6 separate regions of the Homo sapiens genome follow, and regions 1, 2, 3, 5 and 6 are each reported to be linked to region 4. Evidence: microRNA targets listed by miRTarBase, many of them from high-throughput screens and not tested one by one. Region 4 holds a microRNA gene; each other region holds the end of a gene's coding sequence. Distances are between the middles of the regions.
What was found. Region 4 holds the annotated microRNA hsa-miR-526b-3p (GAAAGUGCUUCCUUUUAGAGGC, at 1,369-1,390, opposite strand). A microRNA usually pairs through its seed, bases 2 to 8, with sites in the 3' UTR of a target mRNA and lowers its output. Matches are read on the target gene's strand: a 7mer-m8 pairs with bases 2 to 8, a 7mer-A1 pairs with bases 2 to 7 and ends in A, and an 8mer does both.

Region 1: the mRNA of ZNF665 is a reported target of hsa-miR-526b-3p. Seed matches in the 3' UTR shown: 7mer-m8 at 2,432-2,438 and 7mer-m8 at 1,327-1,333.
Region 2: miRTarBase lists FOXJ2 as a target of hsa-miR-526b-3p. Seed matches in the 3' UTR shown: 8mer at 2,420-2,427.
Region 3: miRTarBase lists CPT1A as a target of hsa-miR-526b-3p. Seed matches in the 3' UTR shown: 7mer-m8 at 606-612.
Region 5: miRTarBase lists UBOX5 as a target of hsa-miR-526b-3p. Seed matches in the 3' UTR shown: 7mer-m8 at 1,021-1,027.
Region 6: miRTarBase lists NME6 as a target of hsa-miR-526b-3p. Seed matches in the 3' UTR shown: 7mer-m8 at 943-949 and 7mer-m8 at 2,465-2,471.

The regions. Positions count from the first base shown.
Region 1 is chr19:53,161,967-53,165,089 of GRCh38, forward strand. ZNF665 (zinc finger protein 665) reads right to left here. Exons shown (of 4, transcript NM_024733.5): 4 at 458-3,123. The coding sequence ends at 2,487. Among named protein-coding and RNA genes, the nearest start is that of ZNF347, 4.5 kb to the left of the region's middle.
Region 2 is chr12:8,052,185-8,055,307 of GRCh38, forward strand. It overlaps FOXJ2 (forkhead box J2), which reads left to right. Exons shown (of 11, transcript NM_018416.3): 11 at 578-3,123. The coding sequence ends at 666. Among named protein-coding and RNA genes, the nearest start is that of C3AR1, 13 kb to the right of the region's middle.
Region 3 is chr11:68,755,064-68,758,186 of GRCh38, forward strand. CPT1A (carnitine palmitoyltransferase 1A) reads right to left here. Exons shown (of 19, transcript NM_001876.4): 19 at 1-2,667. The coding sequence ends at 2,581. Among named protein-coding and RNA genes, the nearest start is that of TESMIN, 5.1 kb to the left of the region's middle.
Region 4 is chr19:53,692,710-53,695,832 of GRCh38, reverse strand. MIR526B (microRNA 526b) reads right to left here and starts at 1,440; the gene lies at 1,358-1,440. It overlaps MIR519B (microRNA 519b), which reads right to left and starts at 620; the gene lies at 540-620. LOC107985342 (a long non-coding RNA gene) reads right to left here. Exons shown (of 3, transcript XR_007067332.1): 3 at 1,211-1,804.
Region 5 is chr20:3,107,348-3,110,347 of GRCh38, forward strand. UBOX5 (U-box domain containing 5) reads right to left here. Exons shown (of 5, transcript NM_014948.4): 5 at 226-2,967. The coding sequence ends at 2,759. It overlaps UBOX5-AS1 (UBOX5 antisense RNA 1), which reads left to right. Exons shown (of 7, transcript NR_038395.1): 1 at 1-224; 2 at 2,128-2,403; 3 at 2,931-3,000. Among named protein-coding and RNA genes, the nearest start is that of UBOX5-AS1, 1.9 kb to the left of the region's middle.
Region 6 is chr3:48,292,170-48,295,280 of GRCh38, reverse strand. NME6 (NME/NM23 nucleoside diphosphate kinase 6) reads left to right here. Exons shown (of 6, transcript NM_001308426.2): 5 at 46-206; 6 at 478-2,964. The coding sequence ends at 644. Among named protein-coding and RNA genes, the nearest start is that of NME6, 7.6 kb to the left of the region's middle.

The DNA.
Region 1 (3,123 bases), 530 kb from region 4:
TGGTGGCTCACACCTGTAATCCCAGAGCTTTGGGGGGGCCAAGGCAGGTGGATCACTTGAGGTCAGGAGTTCGAGACCAGCCTGGCCAACATAGTGAAACCCTGTCTCTACTAAAAATACAAAAACTAGCCGGGTGTGGTAACGGGCACCTATAATCCCAGCTACTTGGGAGGCTGAGGCAGGAGAATTGCTTGAACCCGGGAGACAGAGGTTGCAGTGAGCCGAGATCACGCCACTGCACTCCAGCCTGGGTGACAGAATGAAACTCCATCTCAAACAAACAAACAAAAAAACCAAAATACACTTAGTTTCTGAAAATTATATGTTGTTTGATCCAACAATGGAAATCATTGTTCTAGATCCTTCGATAGCTTAATGGTGCAGTGTTGTTATCTGTTATGAAGTATGCTACTGAGGTAGGATAAAACTATGTTGGCAAGAAATGATTCATTCATACTTATAAAATACATCAAATTTTATTAGTTAAAACATTAAATCTATGATGCATTCTTAAATAGTAGCAAAATGTGATTCCAGCAGTTAATGTAAATCCTAGTAACAAACATGGGATTCTGGTTACTTTGATTAAACTTCTTATGCTCGGCCGGCCGGGCACGGTGGCTCCAGCCCGTAATCCCAGCACTTTGGCAGGCCAAGGTGGGCGGATTATGAGGTCAGGAGTTCGAGACCAGCCTGGCAAACATAGTGAAACTCCATCTCTACTAAAAATACAAACATTAGCCAGGCGTGGTGGTGCATGTCTGTAATCCCAGCTACTTGGGAGGCTGAGGCAGGAGAATCGCTAAAACCCAGGAGGCGGAGGTTGCGGTGAGCTGAGATTGCATCACTGCACTCCAGCCTGGGCAACAGAACAAGACTCCATCTCAAAAAAAAAAAAAAAAATCAATCTTTGCTATGCAACAGCTATTGGCATTTGATGGAGAAGGTAGCCTCCACTTTTCTGCATTATTTGTACCACACATCAGTCCCTAATAAGCTATTACTCTCCTCTAATAAAAATCCGAGTGTCTTCCTGGCTCTATTTCATGGTCTACTGGTAGAGAATTTCTTTCTTTCTTTTTTTGAGTCAGAGTTTCGCTCTTATTGCCCAGACTGGAGTGCAGTGGCATGATCTCGGCTCACCACAACCTCTGCCTCCCGGGTTCAAGCGAGTCTCCTGCCTCAGCCTCCTGAGTAGCTGGGATTACAGGCATGCGCCACCATGCCTGGCTAATTTTGTATTTTTAGTAGAGATGGGGTTTCTCCATGTTGGTCAGGCTGGTCTCGAACTCCCGACCTCAGGTGATCCACCCACCTTGGCCTCCCAAAGTGCTGGCATTACAGGCGTGAGCCACTGTGCCCGGCCAGTAGAGAATTTCTTCCCATACCCACAGTGCTCTTCTGTCAGAAGAAGGGCACCTGCAGTGCAATAAGGATGATGAGTGACATCATAGTTCATCATCCTCTGCCCTTTCCAAGTGCTCTCTAATTCAGACTATATTTAATTTTAAAAGGCAGAGTCTTTTTTCTTCAGGAGCTTGGAGAGAAATAATCCTCACCTAATGAAGTGAGTGAGCCCTTCCATCCTTTGATTCTTTCCCGAACAACACCATGTTAGGCGTATAATCATGTATAAAATCAGCACATTGCAAAGTTCTGGTTGGAAGTTATAAATAGTAGCCTTTTCAATAAATCTTAAATACTTCAACAAAACATTTTATAAGCTGAAAGTAATTGGCCATTTCCAAACATCCTACAACCTTTGATATGTATCATGTAATGAGTTTTAACACATTTGGACTTCTGATTATGCTGAAGTATATAATATCAGAGGGTTATGAGGAAACTAGAGACTGAGTTCTACTCTTCCTATGAATCCTCACCTACAGTTGTGGTCCAGGAGTAATAGTCTCAGCATGCATGTTACGTTTGTGTGACTTCATCAAAGATGTATCTTTTGATGCGTATTGAGCTCTGAGACCTGGATAAAGCTTCTGTCATACATAGTATATTCACAGGATTTGAACTCTGATGTCTGTTAATGCTTAAACTCATCAGGAGTTTGCCACAGTCACTGTATTTGTAAGAATTGTCTCAAGAATGAATTCTCTGATGTTGTGAAAGAATTTGTGGCTGAAAAACTGGCCGCACTCCTTTGTAAGGTTACTTTTTTTTTTTTTTTTTTTTTGGAGATGGAGTTTCACTCCTGTTGCCCAGGCTGGAGTGCAATGGCATGATCTCGCTCACTGCAACCTCCGCCTCCCAGGTTCAAGTGATTCTCCTGCCTCAGCCTCCCGAGTAGCTGGGATTACAGGCGTGCACCACCACACCCAGCTAATTTTTGTATTTTTAGTAGAGACAGCGTTTCACCGTGTTGGCCAGCCTGGTCTCGAACTCGAGACCTCAGGTGATCCCCCCGCCTCGGCCTCCCAAAGTGCTGGGATTACAGGCGTGAGCCACCACGCCCGGCGTCCTTTGTAAGGTTTCTATCCACTATGAATTCTTCGATGTTTTGCAAGGTTTGAATTTTGAGTAAAGACCTTGCCACATTGGTTACATTTGTAAGGTTTGTCTCCAGTATGGACTGCCATATGGGTAGTTAGGGTTGAACGAACACTGAAGGCTTTCCCACACTCATTACACCTATAAGGTTTTTCTCCAGTGTGAATTCTTCTATGATTTGCAAGATGTGAATTTTGAGTGAAGACCTTGCCACATTCATTACATTTGTAAGGTTTTTCTCCAGTATGGATGACCTGATGGGTAGCTAGGTTTGAATGTACACTAAATGCTTTGCCGCACTCATTACACTTATAAGGTTTCTCACCAGTGTGAATTCTCTGATGAATTGCAAGGTACGAATTGTGTCTGAAGACCTTGCCGCAATCATTACATTTGTATGGTTTTTGTCCAGTATGTATTGTCTGATGTATAGTTAGGCTTGAATGAACACTAAAGGCTTTGCCACACTCATTACACTTGTAAGGTTTTTCTCCAGTATGAACTCTCCAATGCCTTGCAAGTTGTGATGTTTGACTGAAGGCTTTACCACATTCATCACACTTGTAAGGTTTCTCTCCAGAATGAATTCCCCGATGACTTGCAAGGTGTGAATTTTGTGTG
Region 2 (3,123 bases), not on the chromosome of region 4:
GTATGTTATTTTATCATTATCATATGTTTTCAGAAGTACAATTTTTTTTTTTTTTTGAGACGGAGTCTCGCTCTATCGCCCAGGCTGGAGTGCAATGGCACGGTCTTAGCTCACTGCAAGACCTCCCGGGTTCATGCCATTCTCCTGCTTCAGCCTCCCGAGTAGCTGGGACTACAGGCACATGTGACCACACCCAGCTAATTTTTTGAGTTTTTAGTAGAGATGGGGTTTCTCCATGTTGGCCAGGCTGGTCTCGAATTCCTGACCTCGTGATCCGCCTGCCTTGGCCTCCCAAAGTGCTGGGATAACAAGTGTGAGCAACTGTGCCTGGCGTCAGAAGTATAATTGTTAATGGCAGCATAATATTTAATTGCTGTGGAATGTAATTTACTCTAGTTTATTTCCTGAGACCTCACTGAAATGGTGACCTGCAACCAAAATTAACTCCAGCTGATAAGGGCGATAGCCTCACAAGGCCTTCTTCGTGGTGTTATCTGGGGCTGAGCACTGTCCTTGTAAATTGAGGGAACAGCTTCCCATCCACTCTCCTTTTACTCTCTTTCTTTCTTTCTAACAGCACACCATATGGTCCCTCGGCCATCAGTGCCACCTCCTGGTGCCAATGAGGAGATCCCTGATGACTTCGACTGGGACTTGATCACTTAGTGCATCACAGAGTGTGGACATCAGCCCAGGGCCGCGTGGTGAAATCTGGCAGTGGGGAAAGAGCAACCCCAGCCCGTCCCTTCCCCCCGTCTGTATATAGACATATATCCTCTTTTTGTTCTTTCTCTGTCAGAGAAGCCACTGCAAGATGCTGCCGAAGATAACCCTCTCTTTCCTGCCTCATTCTTCTCTCTTCCTTCCTGTTTTTTCCTAGTTCTTTTATTATTATTCTTATATTATTATTATTATTATTGGTTATATACTGTCCATAGTCTCCTGTCCCTACATCATGGATCATGTCCACCTTTTGCTAATTTAAAATCATCAGGCTGGAAGATGAAGCCATGATAGCTACAGAGAAAGGTTTTAGACTCCAGTTTACCTTTCTCTTGGAGAAACTCAATGCTAATCCCACCTTTTGGCCCTAAATTGTTTTTTGTTCCCATCAGTTTCAGGCCAGGACTGGAGAGGCCACATTACCAAGTAGAAAGGGTCTGAAACATTACTTGGCAGCCAAGAATTTGGAGGTTTTAAAATGGTGCTAATTCTGTCCTCTGAGGTCTTCCTTGTCCCTTTATACCTTCAATCCTTACTTCTGCCAGTCTGTATTTCCTATCAAGGGTGAAAGTGATGATGGTGGTGCAGGAGGGTGACAATAAAATCCTAGTGGAATTGGAGACCATTGGAAGGGATGGAATATAAGTCAGTGTGAAACTGAGTATACACTGCCATGTTACATCAGTGTCCATTGGCTTGTTTTGAGCCTGTTCTCTAAGAAGATAGGATTGGTTTTAGCCCAAACTCTGCTTCTATGGTAGGGCATGAGGACAACTATTCAGCATGGTTTTAGCTTCTTGGAGATGATTCCAACTTAACTATTTTGGCTTTTTAAACATAATTTTCTCTGAAAATTAATTGTGGCTCTTATTTGCATTTACGAATGATCTTCCCATCCCTTTTTCCCATTCAGCAAATATTAGTTTGTCCTCCTTTAATTGTTTGCCCAAATCTTCCACCCATCTTTTTTCTTCCCTCATTTTCTGGGATTCTCAAGAAAGAAAAAGTAACCCATTATCACTCTGAGTTTCGTCGTGCCCTGAGACATGATGGGAATCTCATTCCCACCTCTCATAGCAGAGCCAAACCTTTAGTGTTGGTGGTAGGAGGATGGGGAGAGGAAAAAAGAGCTGGCAAAGAAATGGATAGGGAATATTTTAGTTCTTTAAATATATAGGCAGATGCTTCTCTTGGAATCCAGATCATCTGGCTGAAGCTTTTGCAAGTAGGCTTTGAGGGGTGAAGGAGATTGGTGGAGGAGAGTAAATAATCTAGAGGCAAGAGTTCAGTGAGGGCCAAGGGGGACCCCCAGAAAAAGGTATGGAGCTAACTCATCTCTTTTACAAGGGGTGGCCATGACTTACTGTTGCAAAGTACTCAGTGTATATTTAATGTTGATTGTTGAATTTTAGTTACGAGAGGGAAGAACAATTTTACTTCTGTCCTTATTTCACTTGCTGAAAAGCTGTGGGACAAAATGTATGGAATAGACAAGGCCACTTTCTTTGTGATTTCTGCTTTTCATGCATATTATTTTATTTACCCATAATTTCCAAGAGGTTTGGCGTTCCGCTCTCCTGCTTTTTTCTTTCATCCACCCCTTTCCTTTTTTTGGAAGGGGGTTATATATGAGAGTTCATTGAAGAAGTCCAGTGAGGCTGAAGTAAAGGGGCAAGATAGGGCAGTTAACTAAAGAGCACTTTATTTCTTTGAAGCCTTTCTAAGAAAGAAATGGGGGTGCGAGTGGCTTGAATCTCCCATGATGTTGGAGGGCACTTAGTGGGGTTGAAGTATGACATAATATTTCCCATTGGGGAAAGGAGAATTTCTCTTAGAGGGTGGCAAAATGCCTTTGCCCAGTGTCCCTATTTTAGGCATCTTTTCCTTCCTTATTCCTTCCAGTCAGGGTGTGTCCTATACAAAACTTCCCATCAGTTCTCCTCAATATTCCCCATTTGTAAATGATCACTTCTCTTTTCTAAACCCTTTTCCTGTTCAGATCCATACAGGATTTGCAAGGGTAGGATCATACATGCAAATGCCCCTTGTTCATCTGTGTCTTCTGCAAACTAGTCTCATGAAGAATTCTGGCGTGCAGCCAGGGTAGCTGAAGTTTGGGTCTGGGACTGGAGATTGGCCATTAGGCCTCCTGAGATTCCAGCTCCCTTCCACCAAGCCCAGTCTTGCTACGTGGCACAGGGCAAACCTGACTCCCTTTGGGCCTCAGTTTCCCCTCCCCTTCATGAAATGAAAAGAATACTACTTTTTCTTGTTGGTCTAGCATTGCTGGACACAAAGTGTAGTCATTATTGTTGTATTGGGTGATGTGTGCAAAACTGCAGAAGCTCACTGCCTATAAGAGGAAATAAGAGAGAAAGTGGAGGAGAGGGACAAAAGGAG
Region 3 (3,123 bases), not on the chromosome of region 4:
TATCACCCCCCTTGGACATGTACAATAAGACCCCTCTTTCTCCCCTCAAGGAATATAAAATTGCATTGATAACTGCACTGATGAGCAACAATTACATTTGAAACATTTAAAACCTGAGAGAGAAACCCAAATATGTTTAAGCACTCACGTCTACACTCAAAATGCCCTGTGAACTCTAGTGTAACACAGATTGCTCAGTGGTCAACAGTGCATGATCTAGCTGGCTCTGATAGGGACTGACGCCGGCTGCTGGCTTTTAACGGGAAGTGCTATTCTTGCCCAGGGCAGAGAGAGCTACATCCCCGCTGCCTGCTTGACGGACAGTCAGGGGCTTTTGTTGTTGGTTTGTTTTTGCTTTTTTTTTTAGACGGAGTCTCGCTCTGTCGCCCAGGCTGGAGTGCAGTGGAGCGATCTCGGCTCACTGCAAGCTCCGCCTCCCGGGTTCACGCCATTCTCCTGCCTCAGCCTCCTGAGTAGCTGGGACTACAGGCGCCCGCCACCACGCCCGGCTCATTTTTTGAATTTTTAGTAGAGACGGGGTTTCACCGTGTTAGCCAGGATGGTCTCCATCTCCTGACCTCGTGATCCGCCCGCCTTGGCCTCCCAAAGTGCTGGGATTACACGCATGAGCCACCGCGCCTGGACGCTTTTTTTTTTTTTTTTGTCTTTTGTTTTCATTTTTTCTTGCTTTCAGGAGAAAAAAAATCTTTGGCCCATAAAGGTGGGATTTTTACATCATGAAGTATACATACATAAAACATGCATGTGGGCCGCGCATGGTGGCTCATGCCTGTAATCCCAGCACTTTGGGAGGCTGAGGCAGGTGGATCACCTGAGGTCAGGAGTTCGAGACCAGCCTGACCAATATGATGAAACCCCGTCTCTACTAAAAATACAAAAATTAGCAGGGCATGGTGTTGGGCGTGTAATCCCAGCTACTTGGGAGGCTGAGACAGGAGAATCGCTTGAACCTGCAAGGCAGATGCTGCAGTGAGCCGAGATTGCACCACTGCACTCCAGCCTGGGCAACAAGAGTGAAACTCCATCTCAAAAAAAAAAAAAAAAAAAAAGGCACGTGTTCTCCGGCAAGCACCTTCCATCGACTCCAACAGTTCAGCCATCGCTGTTGTACTATCGGGGTGCAGCACTCTGAAGGAGTCAGGCCCAACTAGAACCAAGTGGTCAAAAAAATAAATACACAATTTAAAACAATGGACAGCTAAGCTTGTCATGACAGACAGTGGGAATTTCATTCCATGATGCTTCATTTTTGCATTAAATACTGAAGATGACTCAGTGCATAATTGCTTTGTGGTCCATGAGACGCTTTCGTGAAGGCACTCCTATCTGAAGGACAGGCTGGGTGAACACCTAGCACTGTCACTTGAGACATCTTGGCTGGTCACCAAGGTGAGCCGGCATACTGTCTCCATCACCCTCTGGTGAGTCTTTCCCCTCACCGGGTGGGAGGAGAAGGCCATCCCTTGGGGTCGTGGAGCCACTCTCTCCTCACCACGGTGGGCTGCCCTCCCCTTCCTCACTTGCTAGTCCCCGCTTGGTGGCCGATGCCCTGCCCTCCTTGCTGTCACTTTGGGAAAGAGATCCTCCTGAGGCACGTGTCATGTTTTATTCTTGAGTGAATTATCTGACCATCACGGCCCTTGCTCCCCTTTTATGACATGTGCCTGTTATTTCTTTTGTTGCTTATGATGACAAGAAGGCAGTCCCGGGAGGGGAGTCTGGCACAGCTGCCCTTGGGAAGGAACTGGTGTTTCTGAGGGGGAGGGGGCTGGTGGGGTGTAGCAAATGCTTATGTACGGTTATCCATACTCAGTCAATTGTGAAGGGAACAGTATACCCACAATTCCACCCAAAGACTCTACAAAATAAATCTTTCTCTCCATCTCCCTTACATTTAGGGCCTTTCATTTTTAAGGCACTGGGTTGTGAAGACTTGAAGACATACAAGGTCAGTAAAACTGAAGACCTTGCATCCTGCTTGCTTCAAATGTGGAGAGGCAAACACAGGCTACTGGACCAGACGGGAACGGTTACCCACGGTGACAAAAGCAGGTCTCCAAAGCACAGCATTTTGGTTAGTGCATTCCAGATGTGTTAGCTACAACTGGGGACACCAACTTGAATAACACATTTTTCTTTTAACAAAACAAAAGTTTACCCTGCTTGGATGATGCTAAATGCCCTTAAGCACTAGGCCTTCGGTTGCCACTGAGAAAGCACACCATTTCCATTCCACTGTGTGTGAAGCCACAACCCTACTAATTCCTTCATTAACTCAACAAGATTTGCATCCCTTAATAAATCCAAGCCGATGCGGAGACATCAGGGGAGACTTTATCAGATGTCCCCCAAGGGAGGGCAAGTCTGGAAGTAGTGGGGTTATGCTTCACAGGGGAGAGATACTGTTCTAGGAAAAAAAAACACCCACATTTTCTGGAAGGAAAACTGAGTTTTTTTAAGAGCAGTGTTTCATCCCGAGCTAAGGTCAGGATTAATGCCTATTTTTCATTTGGTTTGCATCAGAAGAGCTCGTTTTCCTTCCCAGCAGCTCCAGTGGAATTACTTTTTGGAATTAGAACTGAGACCAAACAAAGTGATGATGTCAGTCATTGCTTCTTTCAGGTGCCTTCCAAAGCGATGAGAATCCTTTCATGTAAAAACAAAAACCAAAAACCTATTAAAACGTGGCCATCCCCACATTTCAAGCTTTTTCATTTGCAATCTGACCCAATGTTTCATTGAAATTCCTTTCTGCCAGTTCTCTAAGATCTGACCAACGTCTTAAAGCTTAACTTAGACATTCCAGAGAAATGCTGAGGGTAAAGAGATGACAGCTGATGTGTTTGTGCGGGTGTGTTGTCGATCTAAGCCTTCCCCTAATGCCAATGCGTTTATCCCACGGAAAACACAATGACCATCCTGAGCATGGTGGCTCATGCCTGTAATCCCAGCACTTTGGAATCGCTTGAGCCCAGGAGTTCAAGACCAGCCTGGGAAACATGGTGAAACCACATTTCTACAAAAAATACAAAAATCAGCCAGGTGTGGTGGCACTCCCCTATAGTCCCAGCTACTCAGGAGGCTGAAGTAGGAGGATCCCCT
Region 4 (3,123 bases):
CCTGCCACTGCACTCCAGCCTGGGTCACAGAGCAAGACTCCATCTCAAAAAAGAGGACCGCTGGGCACAATGGCCCACGCCTGTAATCCCAGCACTTTGGGAGGCTGAGGTGGGTGGATCTTGAGGTCAGTAGTTTGAGACCAGCCTGGCCAACGTGGTGAAACCCTGTCTCTACTAAAAATACAAAAATTAGCTGGAAGTGGTGGCAGGCACCTGTAGTCCCAGCTACTTGGGAGGCTGGGGCAGAAGAATTGCTTGAACTCAGGAGGTGAGCTTGCACACAAGATCGCGCCATTGCACTCTCGTCTGGGTCACAGAGCAAGACTCCGCCTCAAAAAAAAAAAAAAAAAAAAGAGGACCGTTTGAGCCTAAAAGATCTACGTTGGAAGTGCTACCCTACTCCAGCCTGGGCAAGAGAGACTCTGTCTTAGAAAAAAAAACAAAATAAAAACAGAATCCCACCATCATCCAAGTCTGATGATAAGCATGCTCTGCAAATGTATTACCAAGATCAGCATCAACTTCACTGTTGCTTTCCTCAAACAGTAAACCTCTAAAAGGATGCACTTTCTTTTCTTTCAGACAACAGAAAGCGCTTCCCTCTAGAGGGTCACAGCATGGGATCTTCTTGCTCCAGCACCCTGGGTTTTTTGTAGAAATTTTCCTTGACCAGGTTAAAATAGAGACAAAAATAAAGACCTATTTATTGGCTCTGTTTGCATGTTTTCTGGAATCCAGAACATAGACCCCTAAAAAGACCATCTCCCGTTCCTTCCTACAAAGGCTCAGCAGGTTAGCCTTGTTCATCAAGGGGAAATCCTCCTGAGTTTTGTGTCCAGAAAGAAAAAGCAATGCCTACTATGCATACCTTATATTTAACCAAGAGAATTGGGCTGGATTTCTAGAGAACAGCAGTGGATTTTCAGCCAAGTGTTCACTTGATTTCCAGCACAGGGACACACAGTCCTGATTAGAGCAGTCAAAATGGAATCTACCATGTTGAAGAATATACATTGTTGCACACACAAACATCCTCCAGGATAGACTACAAGGGAGGCCTTAAAAGCTCCTAAAGAAACCCTGTCTCTACTAAAAATACAAAATTAGCCAGGCATGGTGGCGCAGTCCTATAATCCCAGCTACTTGGGAGGCTGAGGCAGAAGAATCACTTGAACCCGGGAGGCGGAGGTTGTGGTGAGCCAAGATTGTGCCACTGCACTTCAGCCTGGGCAACAGAGACCCAGTCTTAGATAAAAAAACAAAAGAAAAACAAAACCCCAACATCATCCAAGTCTGATTATAAGCGTGCTCTGCAAAGATATTACAAAGATCAGCATCAACTACAACGTTGCTTTTCTCAGACAGTAAGCCTCTAAAAGGAAGCACTTTCTCTTCTTTCAGACAACAGAAAGTGCTTCCCTCAAGAGGGTCACAGCCTGACATCTTCTTGCTCTGATGCCGTGGATTTTTTCCTGGAATTTTCTTTGACCAAGTTAAAATAGACACAAAAATAAAGATGCATTTATTGACCCTGTATGCATGTTTTATGGAATCCAGAATATAAAACTCTATAAGGACCATCTCCAGTTCCTTGCTTCAAAGAATCAGCAGGTTAGCCTTGTTCATCAAGGGGCAATCCTCCTGAGTTTTGTCCCCAAAGAGAAAAAGCAATGCCTACTACACGTACCTTTAACCGAGAAAATTGGGCAGGATTTCTGGAGAACAGCAATGGATTTTAAGCCAAGTGTTCACTCGAGTTCCAGTACAGGACCCACAGTCACGAAGGGAGCATCCAAAATGGAGTCTACGATGTTGAAGAATATACACTGTCATATGCACAAACACTCTCCAGAGTAGATCACAGGCTAGGATGTAAAAACTACTCAATAAAATTTGAGCAGAAATACACAAGTACAAGTGGGGCCCAGTGGCTCAGACCTCTAACTCCTCGAACTTTAGGAGGCCCAGGCAGGAGGATCACCTGCCTCAGGAGCTCGAGACCAGCCCCGGCAACATGGCGAGACCCCATGTGTACAAAAATTACAGAAGTTAGCCAGGTGTGGTGGTGCATGCCTGTAGAGACTAATTCAGCAGGCTTAGGTGGGAGGTGGAGGTTGCAGTAAGCCGAGATTGCACCACCACACTCCATCTTGGGTGACAGAGGCAGATATTGTCTCAGAAAAGAACCACACACACACGCACACACACGCACACGCACACACACCCTAGGTGATATCGGAGTATTCTCTGTGTTTAGAAGAGTATTTTGTGTGTACATAATATATAAGAATATAAAATGAAATATACATCATGTATTTTTGAGACCCTGTCTCAAAGAAAGTTCCAAATATTGCATGCTTATAGGAAGAATAATTCCTATACATAACTGCTTGCTTTGGAAGTACACATAAAAAAATTTAAATGACATAGAATATCCTGGCCACTGCACAAAGGCGACACCCAAGTCCATGCTGGTCCCATATTCACCTAATTATTTTTATTTTTATTTATTTATTTATTTAGAGACAGAGTCTCACACTGTTGCCCAGGCAGGAGTGTAACGGTGTGATCTCTGCTCGCTGTAACCTCCGCCTCCCAGATTCATGTGATTCTCCTGCCTCAGCCTCCCGAGTAGCTGGGATTACAGGTGAGTGCCACCACACCCGGCTAATTTTTGTATTTTTAGTAGAGACGGGGTTTCACCATGCTGGCCAGACTGGTCTCGAACAACTGACCTCAGGTGATCCTCCTGTCTCAGCCTCCCAAAGTGCTAGAATTACTGGTGGAAGTCACCATACCCAGACTAGTCCCATATTTAAAATTAGGAAAAAGCAAAAGATGCCCACACCTCAACAGCAATGTTCGAGTACATCTCAAATACATTGCACATCCCATCTGCAAGGGACGCTGAGGTCCCCTTCAATTCTACGTGAACCCACGTGAGGTTCTATAAACCAGTGCCCGAATAATTTCTACGTAGGAAAAGTTGTTGATAGCCGGGCGTGTTGGCTCACACCTGTATTCACAGCACTTTGTGAGGCTGAGGCAGGTGGACCAACTGAGGTCAGGAGTTCCAGACCAACCTGGCCAACATGGCAAAACCCTGTCTCTATTAAAAATACA
Region 5 (3,000 bases), not on the chromosome of region 4:
CTGCGTTCAGAGGGCCGAGTCAATGTCACAGGAAGGGGAAGAGACATGTGCCCACAGACCCTGTGGTCATGGAGGGGGTGGAAGATCTCTGGAGGGCAGCAGGGCCACAGCAAGGCTCTGAGGTCCTGAGTCTTCTCCGTCCGTGGACTTAAACTCTGCGTGTTTACAGCTGTTCTGTGCCTGGGTCCAGGCTCTAGTGAGAAATAAACTGCCTTCAGAGCCAGGTGACAGCAAAAGAAATTTTATTCCCATTTTCTAGGGGACAGAAACAGAGCCCAGTGGTGCCTAGCATGTTTCTGGCAAGGGTAGTGAAAAGACCACTTCCTTTTGGGGGAAGTCTTTCAATTAAGAAAAACACACGCAACTCCTGGGGGTGGCTCCACCTGTACCCAGGACAGGGCCTGCCACTCCAGGGGCTCCCAGGCTGGATTTTCCACCAGAGCAGTCTTGGGGGCAGGAGCCTGTTAGAAATGCAGATCCCCAGGGACCTGCAGCGGTCTGGGCAGTACCTCCAACACAGCTGCTTAAGGGGAGGCAGTCCGGCCCTCATCTGGGAGCGCCGTGCTGACGCTGACTGCACGCTAGGGCTCTCGGGGTTGGGTGGACAGGGTTTCTCCGAGAGATGGGCTCCCAGCAGCCAGAGCACACTGTGGGTGTCAAGCTGCTGGTGGGAAGCAGGCTGTTCCCTGAGACCATGACAGGGTGAAGGTGGGAATCACCAGCCCCCACACTCACCAAGAAATGCTTTTGCTACATGCTGGGGCTTTTTTCTTTTTTTGAGAGGGAGTCTCACTCCGTCGCCCAGGCTGGAGTACAGTGGTGAGATCTCGGCTCACTGCAACCTCTGCCTCCCCGGTTCAAGCGATTCTCATGCCTCAGCCTCCTGAGTAGCTGGCATTACAGGCACACACCACCATGCCCAGCTAATTTTTGTATTTTTAGTAGAGATGGGGTTTTGCCATGTTGGCCAGGCTGGTCTCGAACTCTTGACCTCAAGTGATCCACCCACCTTGGCCTCCCAAAGTGCTGGGATAATAGGCATGAGCCACCATGCCCGGCCATGCTGGGGCTTTTCTAAGAACACAAGCACACCGGAGGGTAAGACAAGATTCTGGAGAGGCACAGACCCAGAAAGCCAGGGGCACACAGGAGCCTCGCCAGCGAGGGCGGCACAGGCCATCCATGCGGACCCTCAAATCTCATGTGAAGGCTGCATCAAGGTCAGTGCCAAGAGGAAGCAGAGCAAAGCATGTGACCACCTCTCTGAAGCCATCTTTGTGGACAAATGATGTAGGAACTCAAAAAAATGCAGGCTTGGCTAGGCGAAGTGGCTCATGCCTGCAATCCAAGCACTTTGGGAGGATCGCTTGAGCCCAGGAGTTTGAGACCAGTCTGGACAACATAGCAAGACCTTGTCTCTACAAAAAATAAAAAAATTAGCTGGGCATGGTGGCACATGCCTATAGTTCCTGCTACCTGGGAGGCTGAGGTAGAAGGATCCCTTAAGCCCAGGAGTTCGAGGCTGCAATGAGTTATGATTGCACCACTGCCCTCAAGCTTGGGCAACAGAGACCAACCCTGTCTCAATTAAAAAAAAAAAAAAAAAAGCAACTAACCCCAAACCCAGATCTCTAAAGTATTGGGTGTGGACTAGAGCTCTGGACGGCCTAAAGGAAAGGAATGTGCCGGTTCACAGGGACCCGCGGCTAAGCTCAAGGGTAAAATACAGCTTTACAAAGCATCTTTAGGCTGTTCCTTCCCAAACGTGCTTAGAAGGGAACAGGGAAAGGCGGGTGTGTTTTCTCACTGAGGTTCTTCTAGTGGCTGGAATCTGATAGAGTACCAAGTTGTAGGGATATGGATATATTTTCCCTTTGGCACTCCATAAAGCTAAATGTTGGGCTGAAAAAAGGATGCAGCCTATAAACAAGTATTTTTCCTGAAACCAACTGCATGAGGAAACGCTGCGCTCCCCCTCAGGGAGCAGTTTCTGAAGCCAGCTGAGCACAGCTGGCACTGGCCAGAGGGAGCCCTCCACCCTCCCACCACGTATGCCCACCTGCAAACCTGGGTTCTGAGTCCCCATGCAGGGGACAGACCTGAAAATTCCAGTTTGTGTCCTTTCAGGTCATCGACAGGAATGACAGCCTGGCAAGCTGCAGTGACTGCACACAGCTACCCTGTGAGCTCCACTTGTGTGGGTGCAGGTGGGCGACAGGAGTGTGTGACACAGACAGGCACTCCACCAGGAGGAAACCCACAGCAGACGTCAACCATCGCTTTATTAAGGCTGCGAGTCGGGGGGCTGAGTCATGCACTCCACAGACACCCCCACTGCTCCCAAGGTCCACTTTTGGATGACCCTGAAGGCAGAGACTCCTGAGATCTGGGCCACAATCTAGGGTGAGCCACCCACAGTGCCCTGCTGGACAGGGGGGTATGCGGACTGCACGGGGGGGCCCTCAGCAGGGGTCTTCCTGCCTAGGGTGGGGCTGGCTCCAGTGGGTCCTGGGCTCAGGCAGGGGGGGTGGCAGGGAGGCAGGGACATCCCCCCGCCCTCTGGCCTATGGCTTTGTTGCCCTATTGCCACCAGCGCAGAAGCAATGTGCTATACCGTGAGGTGATGAAGAAGAGCCCCGGGAGGGAGCAGGCAGCTCTGTGCCTGGGGCCTGGCCAGACCTCAGGGGTGCTGTGGCCCTGCTCCTGTTCCCCCTCAGCTCCTCCCAGCAATGGGTCTCCTCCAGTGGAGGTCAGTCACTCAGAAGTGGACCCGCAGCACGTCTTGGCTAGCAACCGGCCGCTGGCAGGCTGTGCACGTCATGGGCAGGGAGCGTTGCTTCTCACCCAGGCAGGGTCGGCACAGGAGGTGGCCGCAGGGCAGCTGGTACACCGGCTCCTTTTTGAAGTAGGGAGAAAATACTCTTTTGCAGGAGGCACATTCGGGGCCCAGGATGCTCCCAGGCTGCTCTGGTAAATCAGGAAGGAAAACAGGCCAGGGTT
Region 6 (3,111 bases), not on the chromosome of region 4:
AGTCTAGATGGCCAGGTTCTTTACATGTGCTTGTTTTGTTCACAGCGGGCCAATCCGAGCCTACATCCTTGCCCACAAGGATGCCATCCAGCTCTGGAGGACGCTCATGGGACCCACCAGAGTGTTCCGAGCACGCCATGTGGCCCCAGATTCTATCCGTGGGAGTTTCGGCCTCACTGACACCCGCAACACCACCCATGGTTCGGGTGAGTCCCCTGTCCATAGCCATAGGATATTTTGGGGTTAGCGGGCAGGCTGTGTGGTAGAGTTGACAGCCAGGTCCCTCCAGTGAGCTTTCTTCCATTTGTGTTTCTGGTCTTTGTAGCCATGTTGGCAGATGTGGCCTGTGGACTTTCTTTACATGCCCCAGGACTGAAGGGGCAGGCAGAGTAGAGGCTCAGGATTCTGAACCTGATTATGACTGCCTCTTGCTTCTACCATGTGAGAACCCCTTCTCTGTCTTATCTCCCCTTACAGACTCTGTGGTTTCAGCCAGCAGAGAGATTGCAGCCTTCTTCCCTGACTTCAGTGAACAGCGCTGGTATGAGGAGGAAGAGCCCCAGTTGCGCTGTGGCCCTGTGTGCTATAGCCCAGAGGGAGGTGTCCACTATGTAGCTGGAACAGGAGGCCTAGGACCAGCCTGATGCAGGTCTATGAAGACCAGTGGTAGTGCCCAGACTTCTCCTAGACATCTAGTCTAAAACATTCTCCTAGGACCAGGGAAGCCTGGCTTACAGTGCCATTTCTGCTGGGCACCACCACCTGCCTGAGGGCCTAGCTCACCACAGCACATCCTCCAGGATCTAGCCTTCTATCTACCTCTTCTCTGGAATGTTTATGGTGGTTCAGAAGAATGATGACTCCTCTTTGCTGAGAACTGTTCATCCTTCTTCAAGAAGAAGCTTGCCAGGCCGGGCACGGTGGCTCACGCCTATAATCCCAGCACTTTGGGAGGCCGAGGCAGGCGGATCACAAGGTCAGGAATTCGAGACCAGCCTGACCAACATGGTGAAACCCCATCTCTACTAAAAATACAACAATTAGCCAGGCATGGTGGTGCATGCCTGTAATCCCAGCTACTCAGAGGCTGAGGCAGGAGAATTGCTTGAACCTGGGAGGCAGAGGGTGCAGTGAGCCGAGATCGTGCCATTGCACTCCAGCCTGGGCGACATTCTGTCTCAAAAAAAAAAAAAAAGAAGCTTGTCTAATTGACTTGCCTAAAAAATGCAGTGACTCCAAACAACATTTGACCTGTCTTCCTCAATAAAAGTCAGTGTTCTCCTGAATCCTTTATGCTGCCACATTTAGGGGAAACTTTTCAGGCTTCATCATTCTGACTTCTCAGCAGCATTCAGTTATTGCTTCATTCTCCAGAAACACTCTCTTCTCTTGGATTTTCTGATCCCACACCCTTGGTTTTCTCCTTCTGTGTGTTTTTCTTCATCTCCTTTATCAGCTTATGCAAACATTTATTTTCATAAATTCTCTATTCAAGACATACTGAAAAATGCAAAGATGGTTAAGACATGATTGGGTCCTCAAGTTGCTAATTATGAATTTGGGTGGTCAGCCAGCTATAACGTGGCAGAGATGGAGAAGTGCCCTAACAGAGGTATAAAGTCCTGTGGGAGAACAGAGGAAAGAAGGTTTCCTTTGGCTGGGTGAGGAGGTGAAGGAGATAGGGTGGAAAGTCTTTTATAAAAGATATAGCTGGCTTTGGAACTAAGCCTGAAGGTCAAATAGGGTATCCATAGCAGGGGTCTGGGGCACTAGACAGTCTGTTCATTTTCAGGAATATATGGGTCAGTTTTGTATGTGTGACCTAAGAAACCTGTGACACTTCTTACAGGTCTTGACTTTTCTTTCTCAGTACATGTGTATTTCTCTTTTTGGTGGCCTTGAAACCTTTGAGTTGAAAATTGCCTTCACCATCTGCCACTTTCACTAATGGTAGACCAGGAAATTTGGACCCACTGAACATAGAGAACAACTAGAAAAGCTGTGCAAAATATAAACAGCATCTATCTGAAAGCATCAGCTGGCAATATAGAACCAAAATTCAGGACACGAAGGAAACTCAAGAGAAGTGAGCCTGGGACTTAGAGCTACTTTTCCCATAAGGGCACCTGCTGATTCTGGAAGAGGCAGCTAAGAAGCTGAGTAGAACTTTCAACAACTTCTTGTGTTAGGGAGCCAGCTTCATGAATGCTGGCAGAAAACACAGGATTACTTGGGCAGAGACTACTGCTCAGGGCACAGCAGGCAGTGTGTTAGCCTTGGTCTCCCTTGCCCTCCAAGTCCCACAGGGCAATACTGGCAGGCCCAGGAAAGTGTTACACACTGCAGGTTTGCATGACGGCTAAGGAACCACAATCTTAGGGAGATACTATCTCTGTCTTCTAAGGCCATTTGCTGTACAAAAATCCTTGAAATACCTGGGCACAGTGGCACACCTATAATCCTAGCACTTTGGGAGGCTGAGGCAGGCGGATCACCTGAGGTTGGGAGTTCCAGACCAGCCTGACCAACATGGAGAAATCCCGTCTCTACTAAAAATACAAAAATTAGCCAAGCGTGGTGGCGCGAGCCTGTAATCCAGCTACTCGGGAGGCTGAGGCAGGAGAATCGCTTGAACCCAGGAGGCGGAGGTTGTGGTGAGCCAAGATCACGCCGTTGCACTCCAGCCTGGGCAACAAGAGTGAAACTCCATCTCAAGAAAAAAAAAATCCTTGAAATAGTCTGGAACAAAATCTGTCAACATCTCAGCCCACAAAGTATCAACAAAATTGATATTTTGTTGCATTTAAAAAATTTAAATGGTGGTCAAAGCGTACAAAATCTGACAATTAAGACACCCACAAGAGACACAGAATTATCTCCCAATAAAATTGTCTCATAAAAACCTGGCTCCCACAAATATGGAAAGGGAGAAAACTAGAATAAACCCTGTGGTGTCGAATTGGAGATATCAGTGTGAACTCGTGTATTTCAGTCTATAGAGATAGATGTAAATATGTTTTTGTATGTATAGTCCTTTGCACTGATGTGAGAGCAATGACACTCCAATAGTAATGACCACACCCAGCACCCAGGTCCACCAAAAGACAAAGT